Linked DNA regions of Homo sapiens: region 2 is linked to region 1. A link means that fine-mapping ties the variant in region 1 to the expression of a gene that starts in the linked region. Tissue or cell type: whole blood. Region 1 holds a variant in brackets; the other region holds the start of a gene. All regions are shown on one strand. Distances are from middle to middle.

Region 1 (2,680 bases):
CTGCACACTTTGGTTCTTTCTCTTAAGGCCACAGGAGAATATGGAGAGCCTGACCGTGTGAGCTTTAAGCTGCGGCAGCTGCTGCTCCATCCAAGTGGCCGCTCTCACTGAGCTCCCCTGGGGAGGACTCATTCTTTGAATGGCCTCCCTGGTTTTAGCAGTGTGCCATTGCTACTGTTTTCCATTGCCTGGGCTCTGTAAGTGGCCTAATTTCTTCTGCCCATGTGATTGTATCATATTTTAGTCTGGCACTGGTATTTCTCAGCCCCTCCTCCAGGGATGGTGTTTGCCACACCCTGTGAGGGAGAGGGGCTTTGAGGCTGAGGGCAGCATTAGGAATAGGCTAAACAACTGGCCGCAGCACTAGGTCTGCAGCTCCAGGTAAGGCAGAGGTGAACTGGCCAGGAAAAGGTGGTGACAGCAGCGGCTCAGAAAGCCCTGGGAGAATCTAAAGGACCTGATGAGAAGGGCGAGGGACTGGAGCTCACAGGCCCTGCGGAAGAGAGGGCAACCGCTCTTCCATTCCTTCTGCTGGAAGGAAGTGGCCTGGACCTGGTGAACCTTGTTAATCTGATTTAAGGTTACTTTTTCTTTCACTGTCCTGAGCCACTGAAGAATCCTTGTTAAATGATCCAGACTTACTCTTTGCTGTGCTACAGGAAATTAAAAGGAGCTGTTGAGTCTGCTTGGAGCAGAGAACAAGAAGGGGTAATCTACAGGACTCTGGTGGTGGCGGCTACAGCTGCCAGCATGGAATTCCCATAGCTGGACAATCAGGGCTGAGTGGCCTCAGGAGTCGGCGCCATGGAGGGATTCACTCCTCTTGAGAGTTTTCTTTTTTAGTGTTTTTTTTTTTTTTGAGACAGGATCTTGCTCTGTCACCCAGGCTGGAGTGCAGTGTGAGATCAGGGGTCACTGCAGCCTCGACCTGGGATCAAGCAATTCTTCACACCTCAGCCTCCCGAGGAGCTGGTACTATAGATGTGCCACCACACCTGGCTAATTTTCTTTATTTTAGTAGAGATGAGGTCTCAAACTCCTGGCCTCAAGAGACCCTCCCACCTAAGCCTCTCAGAGTGCTGGGATTACAGGTGTGAGCCACTGCACCTGGCCAACTTCTCCCTTCTCTTGAATCCTTGCTGCCTCACGACAGGTGTCAGAGCGGCACCACCACACC[G/A]CAAAGTGAAGAGATGATGCCGTGCCTGGGAGGGTGGCTGGAGAGTCCCCCATCACTGCTAGTATGGGAACGGTGATGGTATGCAGAGAGGAGGTGTGGTTAGAAGGGTAAGTGGGTATTTGGAGGTGAGGGGAAGGGTGCTACCTGGGAATCTCCTGGGCCTGCCTAAAAGGGTTGTGTAACCAGAGTCCTGGGACCGGGGTGGGCTTTGCAGTCAGACATGCTGTTGTGAGAGAGACGAAAGGGTTACACTGCGGTTCTCACTGCCTGCCTGAAGTGACAGCCGAAGGCTGAGCAGACCTCCGGGAAGTGGTCATGAGGATCTGGCTCGATCTGCTGAAAATATAATCTAGGCCATCAGAAAAGAGGAGGGAAGAGCTGGAGCTGTGAAGAAAGATGAGATCACTGAGAGCTGCTGAGTCCCAAAGAATCAAAACGAAGCCCTGCTCTGAGGCTTGTGGGTGAGCCTGGTGACCTTCCTTTCTTTTGAACTGTCTTCATGTCTTCTCATTTTTACGTAGTTGTGGCTACTCTTTGGGGAAAGTGTGGCTGCTTTTCTCTGTCTGCACAGAAGCAATGCAAGGTTATAGACTCCGGAACATGAGAGCCAGAAGGAGCCACGAGAAGGGTAGGGGAAACGTCTGTTTTACAGAGGAGGACCCAAATCTTAGGCAGCTTGCTGAGGCCACAGAGCTCACAGGGGAATTTAGTTTGTTGACTTCCAGCTTGGAATTCTTTGTCACACAAGTGTTGGGGCTCATAAAATAATGCCCAAAATGTGGCACTTGACGAGCTGAACTAAAGCAGCAGCTTCAAGGTTTCTCTCTGGCTTTCCCCCGCCATCGTGTGTCTGTGACCCTTTCTTTTCTTTTCTTTTTTTTTTTTTTTTGACCCTTTTCTAAAGCACCAGGAGCATGCTGTCTCTCTGACCTTTTTCTTTTCTTTTCAACCCTTTCTTTTCTAAAGCACCAGGAGGACCTCTTTCTCTGGAAGTTCCCTTACCTGATTAAGAACACTTCTAAAATAAATGCAGCCGTCTTAAAGCCCCCTCCCTATGAATCTCATTAAATAACCAGGAATGATTAATCACCCAAGAAAAGACTGAAAAAGAAGCTACAGCCAGGATACCATACCCAGACAGACTTTTCGTCTTTTCTTCTGAGGGAGGTTCCAAGAGATAACCTGGGAGACTGTATCTGCATAATAAGACAACCTTAGTTCACAGTGCAGTACCACCCCTCACCTTCCATGACTTGTCCACAAGCTATTGTTTGTCCTTCAGTCCCATTCAGCATCCAAAGAGAACCATTTGCAAACCACTGTCAGGTATTTGGGTCCATTCATTTACAGCCCCCCAGCTCCCTTTCCCTAGTGAAGAGAGTATTTAAGTGCCAACCATTGGGCCTTTCTGTGTATGTTCATATTTTTTATATGGCTTCCCTGCTTCATGCATGTTAATAAATTTGTTATGATTTTCTCTTGTTAACCTGTCTTTTATTATAA
Region 2 (2,680 bases), 190 kb after region 1:
AGATACCATCTCTCAGCTCCAGTGCAGCAGGTCTCTCTCTTCTCTCCCACACAAGCTGTCTCCATGCCTGCCTCAGGCATTTACTAACAGCACTTCCTCCGAGCCACCACCGTGTCCTCCTCTCAAGACTACACTTCTTTCAAGGCACAAGTCAACATGTTTCTTTGTCAAGATTTAACCTGTTACACATCCTGATGTTTTCTTACAATTGGAATCGTCTCTTTATTCATGAGTAGTCTATTTTAAATAAACATGCTGAGTAAATACGTAGAGAATATAAATCCTTAGATAAATGTTCATTTTTGTCTCCTTCCTAGACTATATCCTCAAGGGCCTCAGTCACACATTTCCTATTAGAGGTAGAAGAATATAAGCCATAGATTCAACATGCAACAACTACAAGACCTCTGTTAAGGTAAACAGAGAAATAAACGATTCAACTACACGAATTAGTGTTCCATTTTATAATTCTACTATGTCAAACAGAATTAACAAACCTGATACAAAAACATCAAATATATGGTAACACAAATAATATAACTCTTTTAGGCCTCTCTAAAGCTGGATAATTTGGTATTTTCATCACAAAAAGGAGACAACAAAGACTGCAATGCGAAATTAGCCTGGGCTTTGAGTGTCTAATTTAGAATTCTTCCATTACCTCTAGTTTACCTTCTAGCCTGAAAGTTCCTGAATCATAAAGGATCTCTTTAGTTTCCTTCGTGATAAGTGTTCTCTGAAAACGCTCTGCACTAGGGTTCATCTAACTGGGGTCTGAAGCACCCTAAGGGTTCTGGGACACATTCTAGACCATGAGAGAATTGTTCCTTTAAAAGGGGTCCGCGCATTACTCAAGTTCAGAAACAATGCTGTGCATCATCACTTTACTGCCCAATAAGCTCCATTTTTCCAAGAAGAAATCTAACATGAAATCTGGCAAAAGCAAAGCAAAGCGAAAACGACAAGACGAGCGAATGTCATCATTTAAAGCGGCAGGCAGGGCCGGCTGGGTCCCGGGTGCAGCATCCCTGCTGCCCGGTCAAGCTCCGCCCATTCGAGGGGGGGATCCCGAGCGGTCACCCGAGGCGCGCGACCGCCAGGTGTCCCCTGCCAGGGGCTGGGGGAGCGCGCCGGCCGCCAGGGCTCACAGGGGTTGGTCCCGGGGCGCTCGGATGTGGCCGCGCGGCAGGGGAGGCGGGAACCGGTCCGCGGGGCTAAGCAGGCGGCTGTGGGGGCCTGGGGCAGAGAGGCTCGTCCGCGGCCCGCTCGCCGCGCCGCCGGCCCCCGCACTCCAACCCACTCGCCGGCCCCTTCGGCCGCCCGCCCTCCCCTCACCCACGCTCGGAAGGCAACCTCACCTGCTTGGCCGGCCGGGGACCCCGGGAGCGGGGGACCACCAGTGGGCAGCATCACGGCCAGCCGGCTTCCTGGAGGCCGCGCTCCTTTCCTGGAGCCGCACCCCCGCCCGGCCCCCGCCGGCAACACGTCACCGCCTGCGCCCGGAGCGCGCCCGCTGGCGGCGGGAGCGCGCACGCCGAGGGGCGCGTTGAGCGCTGGGGGGCGGAGCCTGATGCGGGATGATTGGCGTCCGAGCGCTGGGCTGTTCCGTGGACCCGCGCGGCCACGCCAGTGTGCTGTGCACGGGAAATGTGGACGTGGGAGCACGGAGGCACCCAGTACTGTGGCGTGGTGCTCGTCTGGTCGTCAGCGAGCCTCAGCGTACTTAGGACACCGCAGTTTATCTTTCCTTAGCGCTCCTAACGGTTATGGAAAATAGCGCTTGAAAACCTGGTAAGGACTAGGCATTGTTGCTCAACTCTTGACATTTACACCTTTGCCGGTAACTCTCCCTGTTTCACAGATGGGGAAACGGAGGCTCACACTTATTCAGTCTCTCTTGAGATCCACCTGATTCGTGAGAGGTAGAGCCAGGATTTCATTCTTGCCCGTCGATGGCATATGTTAGTGCCTATGTTGGGGGAGGCAGACTGCCCCAGCCCTCCCCAACACACGCAATGGTTATGAGAAGAAATAAAGCGAAGGGTGTTCCTGAGATTGACCCCATGACCTACACTTAGTACAAGGCTAAGCTCTCTTAGCTCTCTGGCTTAGCAATAAACTGCTTTGAAGACACAGAACTTTGCACTTGAGAGCCGGAAGAGACCTTGGGAATCCCGGGTTCCATCCTTTCTTCCACCTTGTATACAGGTGAATGCACTGTGGCCCAGAGATAGGAAGTGACCAGCAATCCAGCCACTTTAAAAGATTTTTAAAAACAAGAGCCCTAGAAACGTCTACTCCATTCCATTTATCAAGTAAAACAAGCATAGACAGAACTGGCAGTTCTACATCTTAACACAGAATCCTTCTTGGTCCAGCACCCGCCTGGGTCACCTCCTCTTCCTGGATTCAGCTACTGTTAACGGAAGAAACCATGAAGCCTCAGAAGGTTAGAGCCAAAGGGACTCTACTGTGTAGCCCCAATCACCTTCTTTTACAGTTAAGAGCCTGGAACCCAGAGAGGTTGAGTGACTTGGCCAAGACCCCCTGGAGGCAGAGGAGAGCAGAACCAATGTTTCAGACTCCCACATGACTTGCGCATCAGTGTCTTTTTTTTGACAATCTGTTGCTATAAGAAATTACTCGTTTGGATAATTTTCACACTAGAAAACCCTGTGAC

What was found. PIP is the estimated chance that this variant, and not a neighbour inherited with it, causes the effect.
Region 2: it holds the start of ENTPD4, and the variant in region 1 is fine-mapped to the expression of ENTPD4 in whole blood (TOPMed, PIP 0.98).

The regions. Positions count from the first base shown.
Region 1 is chr8:23,262,066-23,264,745 of GRCh38, forward strand. No RefSeq gene overlaps it. Among named protein-coding and RNA genes, the nearest start is that of CHMP7, 20 kb to the left of the region's middle. The variant G/A (reference allele first, on the strand shown) is at 1,178.
Region 2 is chr8:23,456,199-23,458,878 of GRCh38, forward strand. ENTPD4 (ectonucleoside triphosphate diphosphohydrolase 4) reads right to left here and starts at 1,449. Exons shown (of 13, transcript NM_004901.5): 1 at 1,359-1,449. ENTPD4-DT (ENTPD4 divergent transcript) reads left to right here and starts at 1,573. Exons shown (of 5, transcript NR_186533.1): 1 at 1,573-1,791. RefSeq lists a silencer at 983-1,662.